2 separate regions of the Homo sapiens genome follow, and region 2 is linked to region 1. Evidence: fine-mapped expression QTL. A gene starts in region 1. The other region holds a variant in brackets. All regions are shown on one strand. Distances are between the middles of the regions.

Region 1 (5,381 bases):
CTTTTTTTTTTTTTTGTTTTTGAGACGGAGTTTCACTCTGTCACCAGTCTGGAGTGCAGTGGCACGATCTTAGCTCACTGTAACCTCCGACTCCCTGGTTCAAGCAGTTCTCCTGCCTCAGCCTCCTGAGTAGCTGGGATTACAGGCACCCGCAACCACGCCCAGCTAATTTTTGTATTTTTAGTAGAGACGGAGTTTCACCATGTTGACCAGGATGGTCTCAATCTCCTGACCTCGTGAGCTGCCCACCTCGGCCTCCCAAAGTGCTGGGATTACAAGTCTGAGCCACTGCGCCCAGCTGGTAATTTCTTTTAAGGTTAAACATGCACTTGCACACGGCCCAAGAATTCCATTCCTAGATGTGTAACCAAAAGAAATGAAAACATATGTCTACACAAAGACTTGCACCTTAATGTACAAAGAACAGCACATGAATGTTTACAGTACCTTCATTCCTAAATGCCAAAAATTGTTCATCAAATGGCGAATAAACATACTATGATATATTCACACAATGAAATACTACTCAGCTGTAAAAAACAACCAAGCATCAACAAACATGCATCAACATGGATGAATCAAAGCATTAAGTGAAAGAAACCTGAAACATAAGGCTACATACTGTATGATTCCATTTACATAACATACCAGAAAAGACAAAGCTATAGACAGGGACAGAGAACAGATCAGTGGTTGCTAGGACCTATGAGTGAGGGGAGGAAACTTTAGAATGATGGGAATATTATTTGTCTGGATTGTGGCAGTGGTTCCATTATATGCATTTGTCAGACTTTATACAGCAATATAATAAAAATTACTTTTTTACTTATAAATCATACCTCAATAAAACTTGATTTTTTTTAAAAAAAGCAACATATGCCCTTTTTAAAAATATGCATCAGTTTAAATGAGCTAAACCAAACTTACTGGGTATGGGAATAGGGCAGGGAGGAACAGTAAGGAGACCAAAAATCCTTAAAATACTGGAAATCTAAAATATTAATTTATCGTTAGTAAATAAGAAACAGATATACATAAACACCAAGAGTTAATCCAAAGAGAGATGCCTTTTTCAATTAAGTTCTCATTGTTTGGACAGAAAATAAGAAAATTTGATAAACTTTCAAGGAAGATTAAAAATCACAAGGAACAGGTTGACAAAGGAGTGCTGTAATTATGACCTACAGTTTGGGAACAACTTATCTAAAACATTCCCCTTCCATTTTACTTAATGGAACCAGTCTTATCCACCCATCCACTCTACTCCACTCCCACTCCGTCTTCTACTATCTTCATTCATAACAATCATATGTAATGCATACATCTGACACATATAGATAAGAGTACAACATAAAATGCCTATTACACCAAATTCCTGTTTGTCCATTTAAGCTCCAGACAAGCTCATTTTTAAACGTCTTTTTTCTCTATTTTAATGCCACCCAAAACCAAAGTGATGTCCCTCTGGAATGATTTTCTGCAGTTTCTTTTGTGTGTTATTAAGTACTAAGATGATCAAAATAAACAAAAATGTCTCAGAAGTTTTGAGTGGATCACTCCAATAAGAAGCTACATTTTTCCATTTAATAAAAGTTAAGAGGTAAGTTGTAACTTTCATCACTTTGTTTTCTTTATGTTTATTCCATTGGGCTTATACTGTTGCTAGGAAACCAGTTCATAAGATTTCCCAGCCCACAGAACACCCTCCTAGGCAGCCTGGAGGATACCAAACTTCGTAACCAGGGCAATTCTCTACCACACAGTTTACTGGTTAGCCAACACCATGCAGGTGCACTCTGCCTGGCATGACCCTTACTACATTTACCTAATAGGTACAGACAGTATAACCAATCCCCTCAACGCAATAGAAATTGTAGCAGAGGGCAATCAGGTGATCATTAAGTGTAGAACTCTCCGACAGCAGGGAACACAACAGCGAATTTGTTGTCAGTCCCTGTCACCCCACCCAACTAAATATTGTGGGGGGGGGAAGGGTTGCCTTAAATTGTGAAGTAAAATGTCAGCCCACTCCAATAACTCCACCACGCAACATGCAAACTGCTTCCAAAAACCATCATCCAACTCCCACCCGGATTAATATTTGGAGAGAAAGGTGGCATCAGTATCCGCACAGCTGAGAGGGGAGGGAAGGAAAGAGTCAGAATTCATAAGGGGCCGCTGAGTCACCTAAAATTGTGGCCAAGACTTTACCCTCCAGGAAATCGAGCTCTGCCCCAACTCTCATCAAGGAAGCAAGTGAGAGTAGCAGCAGCAACATCATCCTACCAAAAAAACACCAGCGCAGCTTTTAATAGAGTTCCACTCCTTAAAGTGAAGCCAAAAATAGGTTTCATGTCCAAAGCTTTCCTCCGCAGTAGGCGACACGCGCAGATGGAGAAAATATCTTTATTGTTGGGAAAGGGAGGCGTGCTAACGGGGACGAAGGATACCTCACCACTTGGCAAAGTTACTGGCTCCTGCCTTGACCCTGAAATGCCACTTTTATTGCAACATGTGGCCCAAGAAACTCTAAGGAAATGTGGCTGGCAGACGCTGTAGAGCTTTTACCCCAATGTACTTGGCAAAGTAAAAGGGGATACATAAACCAGGCGCGTTCTGTGTAATCTAAGCAAGAATCAAGGTCTCCGTTCGGTAGGCGCTTCGGTGACACAATAATCACGTGTTCGTGGGCGTAGACTTTCGAAAACACTCGATTCTGGGACGTGCAGATACCGGTACCCACCGGCGAGCGCAGGAACGAGTGGGCACTCCCACCCCCGGGAGCTGGCTCCGTTCCCGCAGGAGGTTGGTCACGCCCCCTGACTCCTGGTCGCTGCGACAGCCAAGGGCGAGGCCGCAGCAGGCGGGCTGCAGGCGGCGGAAGCTCGTCCGCGCTCCTCCCCCGGTGGGGCGCTCTCCGCTCGCCTCGCGCGGCCCCGACCCCAAGACCCAGGCCCCGGAAGGCGAGCGTTCACTTACCTGCTCCCCTCTCTCGCTCTCCGCTGCCGCCGCTGCGCCGCTCACCCACGCTGCCCGGTGAGCCACCCCCAGCACACAGACCCCTACGCGTACACCCGAGGCACGGCCCCAGGCCCTTGAGGGGAGACCGCGGCCCAGCCACACAGGTTGGGGTAGCCCACGCACCACCCGGCTTCGAACACCTCTGCCCCCGGAAGTTGATTTCCGCCAAGGCCCGCCCAACACAGCGCCCGTCACTCAACGTAAACACGCGCGTCACGTGGCCCCAGGCCGAGGCCCGGGTCGGGGCCCCATGTTCAGAGCCCTGCCACCCCAGCTTGAGCGTGGTCTTTGGAGCGTTGCCCTGTGAAAAGGGGTGACTTTGCCATGCTCCTTCCCAGTCTACCTCCTGTTAGTTACAGTTTCTCATTCCTCTTGAGTAGCAGGCCCTGTTTCTCCACCTAATCCCTGCAAGTAAACCGTCCCCCAAATCAAAATGAGTTCCATCTGGAACTTTGTAGGATTGGTCCTAAGAAGATCCCGCCGAATCTCTTCACCACTTCCTAGCAGAGCACAGTAAAACCGGGGACTAAGCAAAGTGGCTGACATGTAGTAAGTGCTCAAGAAATGGATGTTGACTAGATGCTACCTCTCATCTTTGCCTGTCTGAACTCTCAAGCACCGGATGCAAGTAGACTGAGAGCCTCCGCCAACCAGTAAGATGACTTTGGTCAAAGAATTCTGCTCTAGAGTTACTTTTGTTCTTGTCTTCAACTCCAGATCACAGCAATTCATACGTGCCATCTCTGTTGCAGAGTTTTCTTGCAAAGCCTTTCTTAAAAGCTTTCTGTCAAATAGCTTGTCCTGAAGCAATAGGAAAAGAATAGCGTAATTCACAGATTATTTATTTGAAAGGAAGGAATGATTATATAGATGTCTTTGTCCATTTCAGACTGTCAATAGCGATGAGAGAAACAGTCAACTAGCAGTCCACTCGTGAATGTTTCTTCTGTTTTTGCCATGGAAGGATTTTGAAGAACATTCATTCAACAAATTTTTATTGATTGTATACCACATACCTAGTCCTGGGCCAAGTTTTGACAATTCAAGAGTGAGCAAGGTAACACTCAAGATATTTGTCTTCAAGAAGCTTACAGTCTAGTGAGAAAGAAAGACACTAACCTGGGGACTTTGAGCATAAATCTCTGGAATATTCACATTCCTTGTATAACAAGTATTCTTTCATCCTTGGACACTGGGTTTCTCATCTGTTGAACAAAATTGGCTTAAACCTGTAATCTCTGTTCTGTACTGGAAGTGGAAAATATTAGCAAGGCATCCTGACAAGTCTGCCATAAGTGCTGGCCTAAGTAGTTAATGAGCAGTTTCAGTATTGAGCAAGTCACCTTGACTACATTCTTTTTCCAGCCCACCCCCTTCTTTATGCATACAAAAAACATTTCTATTGTAAGAAATGTAATGCTTTCTTACACATATTTTTTTATCTGTCTACTAGACTACCAAGTCAAGGACCACTTCTCACTTGTATATCCAGCAATCTACTCACTTCTCATTTGTCTTTGTGTATCCAGCAGTCTAGCAAAGTGTCTAGTAGTTAGAAAAAAGGTATTCATAAATATTTCTTAAACTTAGTAAGGTTACCTTTATATTATTTTGTCTCTCATATCTCTTTCTGCTGGAAACCAGATTAGTTTCTGGGAGTTCCTTCCCATTGATGTACTTACATGTTCACTCTGTCCCGATATTCAATACTAAACTGTATTCCATACTAAACAGATTTATAATAAGTAACTAATATTTATTATTAATATTTGCTATGTGCCTGGCATTAGATTAAATATTTTAAATCCCATATATAACTTACCACAATAATTTTACAAAGTAGGTATATTAATATATTTACACTTTAGATGAGGTTACAGATTTAGGAAGTGTAAATTGACCAAGTGGATTTAAAGCCAGATCTGCCCAACAGAAGGGCTTGTTTATTCACTATAGCACATCACTTTGCTTTTTATATCACTTATTTATCAGTGAATTCAAATCCTACCAACTCCATGAAATCTTTCTTCCTTCCCCACAGTAATCTTTTTCTTTATAAACAATTCAGTGATTTTAGTATATTCACAGAGTTATGCATGCTTTACCACATTCGATTTTAGAGTATTTTCACAGCCCCAAAAAGAAACCCCATACCCTTTGGCCCCAACTTCTCCCTCCTCTCCCCAGCCCTAGGCAACCAGTAATCCACTTTCCGTCTGTATGCATTTGTCTATCTTGAACATTTCATATAAATGGAATCATGCAATGTGTGGTCTTTTGTGACTGGCTTCTTTCACTTAACATGTTTTCAAAGTCCCTTCATCGGTTGGGTTGTTTCAGCTTTTTGAATATTATGAATA
Region 2 (5,381 bases), 44 kb after region 1:
GATCCTGCCATTTGCCACAACATGAATAGACCTGGGGACATTATACTAAGTGAAATAAGCCAAACACAGAATATTGCATGATCTTACTTAAATGTGGAATTAAAGAAAAAAAATAGCCCAGATACACGGAAATGGAGAATGAAACAGTGGTTACCACTGTGGGGTTGCAGGGAGAGGAAATGGAGAAACATAAGTCAAAGAATACAAAATAGCAGATATGAAGGATAGAGAGGCTTAGAGATCTAATGTACAGGGATAAAGTTAATACAAATTTGTATTGGATTGGATTTCTGTTAAATAAGTAGATTTTAGCTGCTCTTGTCACAAAAAGATAACGATGTGAGATGATCGATATGCTAACCTGCTTCACTACAGTAACCATTTTACTATCTACATGTATCACATAACAACATGAAAAACTCAAATATACACAGTAAAATTTATTGTTAAAAAAGAAGGAATTGCTACTACCAGGCTAAGATCTTCTGAAAAAAATTGTCTCTCTAACATACATGCAGCATTATCTTTAATTTCTCAGAAAGAAATGAATAGGAAAGTAGGAGAAAGGGATTTAGAGTGCGTAAAAAGAAGCTGACTGGCATTTCTTGCAGCTTACTTAATGATAATCAGCCTATTGTCAAGAAAGATAAATCATGTAGTGAAAAGAGAAGTGCATCAAGAATTCTCCCATATAACCTTGACCTATAGAATAGTGTGTTTCGGATGGGGAGTGGAGGCAAAATGGGAGTAGCGTTTCTGATAACACAAAGTGGGAGTAGCTTTTCTAATGGACACATTTTAGAATATCTGCTTAATATCCGCTTGGCCTACAATGATCCCTTTAACTATTTCTGCTTCCAGCTACAGAGATATATGCCTGGAAGCCATGTTAGGCAATGTGATTGTACTTTTGGACCACAGCTGACTGTATTCTGAGAGGATATTCAATCCAAACTGGAAGGCACCTTTGCAAAATCATGACAGTAAGAAAAATGTGACATAGCTGACTCTATCTTGCGTCTAACCTCCGAGCAGACCTTGTTCATTCCTGGGTGTAGGCCAAGGTAACTTCAGGAGGAATTCAGTTTATAGTTTAACCTTACAGCAAGGAAGATAATAGCCCTTCCCAAAAACTGCTCCCTCCTTGCTTGGGTATTGAAATCACATTTGTAAAACTAACGAATTAGTCACAAGATTAGAAATTATGGTTCAAGAGTCATGTAGCCAGAGGTCACAAGCATTATAACCTCCCAATTGTACCTATAGATAACATCACTATTTTAAAACCTAAGGTTAGTGTCACAGGTATTTTTCAGACCCTGCTTTCTGATGCACCTGCTAGTGCCACCTGGACCCGTAAACTGGCTCAATCGGTCTTGTGATCCCACCCAGGAACTGAAGACTGCAAGAAAACAGCTTTGATCTGTTGTAATTTCATCACCAGCCTGACCAATTAACATTCCCCATTCCCTAGCCCCCTGCCTGCCAAATTATTCTTAAAATAACCCTAGTTTCCGAATTTTCAGGGAGACTGATTTGAGTAATCAACTCCCGTATTGCACATGGTTTAGCCCTGCATTAATTAAACTCTTGCGTTATAGCAATACCACTGTCTCAGTGAACCAGCTGTACCTGTGCAGCCGGCAAGAAGCATCCATTAGGCTTACAAACTGAACCACTGTGTTTCCCTCAGGGGTTTGGAACTGTGGTTGGAGAGAAAGAGATTCAGTATTCTATGCTTAGGGCATATTTAATGTTGTAGCATATAAAGTAGGGCTATATTCTACCTTTTTGACTAAGACATAGAGGAAGCAGGATTGAAGAAACACAGAAGAATGAAGGAGAAATGAGAAATGAGAGAGAATCTGCCTGGTTTCAAGACAGCCTTCCTGTTGCCAGTTCCAGTCATTCTGCTTTTAGTTACAAGCAAAAAGCAGCCTTAGTCTTCAAGATTCTTCTCTGTCTTCAAACTCTGTAAAGATATACATTCAGGTTTTCTCATCTGTAAAATAGAGGCTGGGAGTGGGAAAAGTAGATAACAGAGTACTTCATTTGTGGGACTCAAAAAACCATGTAGTCAGACAAAACTGTTTGCAAAAGCTGTACTGTCTGGAATAGAAGGCAGAATTCAACATAATGACACACACCTTACTTTCCACCTAAGGTGATAATATAGAGTTCAGAAAAAGAGTTTTTTAGAGCTGTGAAGCTGGCTAAGGTAATGTCTGAAATAGGTTTTAAATTTCCCAAATGTGAGAACCATATGGATTCGAATCACTTTATGCATTGCATTTTTTCTACATATGTAAGGAAACAGAGAGAGGCTCAGGTATGTTAGTACATAATTGTCATTAGATTACCTCTAACACTTTCGACTTTGTACAAAGTAAGTGCATGTTGAATAGCTTTAAAAATTAATGCTTGAGGCTGGGCACGGTGGCTCATGCCTGTAATCCCAGCACTTTGGGAGGCCAAGGTGGGCAGATCACCTGAGGTCAGGAGTTCAAGACCAGCCTGGCCAACATGGCGAAACACCATCTCTACTAAAAATAAAAAAATTAGCCAGGCACGGTGGTGGGCTCCTGTAACCCCAGCTACTCAGGAGGCTGAGGCAGGGAGAATCGCTTGAACCCGGAAGGCAGAGGTTGCAG[T/C]GAGCCGATATCGCACCATTGCACTCCAGCCTGGGTGACAGAGTGAGACTCTATCTCAAAAAAAAAAAAAAAAAAAAGAAAAAGAAAAAAGAATTAATGCTTGATCCATCAAATAAACTTAGTAAAGAGAAAATAATAAAAAATACTATGATATATGGTTACACTGTTACACATTTTGCTGAGCAGATTTCATTTCACTGAGTGATTTTCCTTTCTTTCTAGTTGTTGGCTTCAGTCCACATACTCTTCTGTGTAAATAGAATAGAATCTTATTGTAGGGCAAAAGGCTATTAACATAGAGGTCGGTCTGCTATAGATCAAACTGTGCTCCTGGAAACATAACTATAGATGAGAAAAACCTAAGATGAAAAAATTATTCTTAAAAGCAGATGTTTGTAGCAGTCTCCCAAATCAGAGCACCTCTATGGAATAGAGCCTTTTTCCTTTATTTTAGAGAAAAATGTTTCCTTTCTTAAAAACAAAGAAAGAGAAGAAGGAGGAGGAGGAAGAGGAGGGGGGAGAAGGAGGAAAAGAAGAAAGGAGGAGGAGGAGAAGAAGAAAGAAGGAGGAGGAGGAGGAGATCTCCTTCTCCTTTTATTCATACTCAAACTTCTTGAAAAAAGTAACCCACCCTGATGTTGTTACTCCCTCCCTTCCTTTTTCGCTCTTGAATCCATTGCAGTCTGACTTCTCCCTGCTTTGCTCCCAAAACGTTGTTCTTGTGATGGCTTCCAAAGACTCTGTAGCTTTAAAATCTGATGAGCACTTTTCAGTTATTATCTCAACCTATTTTACAAAAAAATTTAAAATATTTACCAAGCGCCATTTGAAATGTTTGCCTTTATATGGCAATTACTTAATCTTCTACTTCTATTTGCTCCATCTTCTCCTTCCTTAGTTTCTTTTTCTACATTAGTTTCTTTTACACTCTGAATTTTCTCCAAGATAAGATTTTGTCCTTACACTTGTTTTTTCTCCCCTTCCTTCCTTCCTCTTTCTTCCTTCTTCTTTTCTTTCTTTCTCTCTTTTTCTTTCTTTCTTTCTTTCTTTCTTTCTTTCTTTCTTTCTTTCTTTCAGTGGGGTCATGTTTTGTCACCCAGGCTGAAATATGATTCCTGAGCTCAATGATCCCCCTGCCTCAGCCTCCTGGGTAGCTAAGACTACATTAGTCCACTTTCATACTGCTATGAAGAAATACCCGACTCTGGGTAATTTATAAAGAAAAAGACGTTTAATTGACTCACAATTCCACATGGCTGGGGAGGCCTCACAATCATGGTGGAAGGTGAAGGAGAAGCAAAGGCACAACTTACATGGCTGCAGGCAAGAGAGTGTGTGCAGGGGAACTGCCCTATATAAAACCATCAGATCTCATGAGACTTACTCACTGTCACCAGAACAGCATGGGAAAAACCTGCCCCCATGATTCAATTACCTCCCACCAGGTCCTACCACAACATGTGGGGATTATGGGAGCTACAATTCAAGATGAGATTTGGGTGGGAACACAGCCAAACCATATCACCTGGCTTCTTAATTTTTTTTTTTTTTTTTTTTTGTAGAGACAGGGTCTCACTATTTCACCCAGACTAGTCTCGAACTCCTGGCTTCCAGAGATCCTCCTGCTTCAAGCTCCCAAAGTGCCGGGACTTGCACTTGTTGTTTTCTTCTATACACTCTCCCAGGGTAATCTCACCGACTCCTATAATATCAAGTACCATGTATTTATGACTCTCAACTTTTTATCTTCAGTATAAACCCCTCTCTTGAACTTCAGACTTGCTAGGCTCCTAATAGATATCCTGCTAAATCTATCACAAATGCCTTAAACTTAACATATCCAAAATTAAATTCTCTTTTATCATCTTTCCAGTCCAACTTCCTTTCATTTAATTATATCTTAGTGTCCAAGTTAGAAACTTCGGGATCACTTCCTCTTCCTTACTCACGTATCCAATCAGTCATTCAGTCTCAGCGACTCTATGGATATACATGGAATCCACTCCAGCACCACTGCTTCTGTCTCGCTTCCAAGCCTCATCATTTCCTGCCTGTTCTGCTGCAGTAGCCTCCTACCAGTTCTCATTGCTGGCAGGCTCTCCTACCTTTTTTTCCTCTTGAATCTGTAGCCTACATTTTTGCTTCTGGTACTTAAAGCACAAAACTATGTTTCTTCTCTGTTTAACACCTTTCAGTGACTTAGAACACCCGTAAGAAAAAACATCACCTCCTTTCCTTGATGAACATAAACAGCCCTTCCTGATTTGGCTCCTTCTCGCCCCATTAATTTTATCTCCCTGATTTGCCTTACTGCCTTACTGAACCACTACCTAGGTTCAGCCTCGACTGTCTTCTTGCAAACATGCCATGCTAGTTCACATTTCAATGTTGCTCGACAGGCTGGTGCATTTGCCTGAAAGGTTTTCCCCTCTTGTGCACCTGGCAAATTCCTGCTCAGTCTTTGAAGATTCCATAAACATCACCCCTTATGTGCATCTTCTTATGATCATTCTCGTAAATGAGCATGGAGGTGCAATGTCTCCATTAGCATTTTTCTCATTATGTGGTAGTTTATAACATGAGGGGGACTCAATCAATCCTAGAGGCCTGTAAGGCTAGCAAACATGTCTCATTCATCTTCACTTCAGTGGTTTAATTATACTTAGTGCATAATATGTGCTCAATGCATGTTGGTTGAATGAATAACAAATGAATAGAGAAAATGACTAG

What was found. PIP is the estimated chance that this variant, and not a neighbour inherited with it, causes the effect.
Region 2: its variant is the best candidate, but not a certain one, in a credible set for the expression of CCDC91 in whole blood (TOPMed, PIP 0.62).

Annotation. Positions count from the first base shown.
Region 1 is chr12:28,188,240-28,193,620 of GRCh38, reverse strand. CCDC91 (coiled-coil domain containing 91) reads right to left here and starts at 3,165. Exons shown (of 13, transcript NM_018318.5): 1 at 2,980-3,165. LOC729291 (a long non-coding RNA gene) reads left to right here and starts at 2,883. Exons shown (of 1, transcript NR_148936.1): 1 at 2,883-5,381. RefSeq lists silencers at 1,711-2,005, 2,689-3,118, 3,149-3,198.
Region 2 is chr12:28,144,685-28,150,065 of GRCh38, reverse strand. No RefSeq gene overlaps it. Among named protein-coding and RNA genes, the nearest start is that of CCDC91, 43 kb to the left of the region's middle. The variant T/C (reference allele first, on the strand shown) is at 2,652.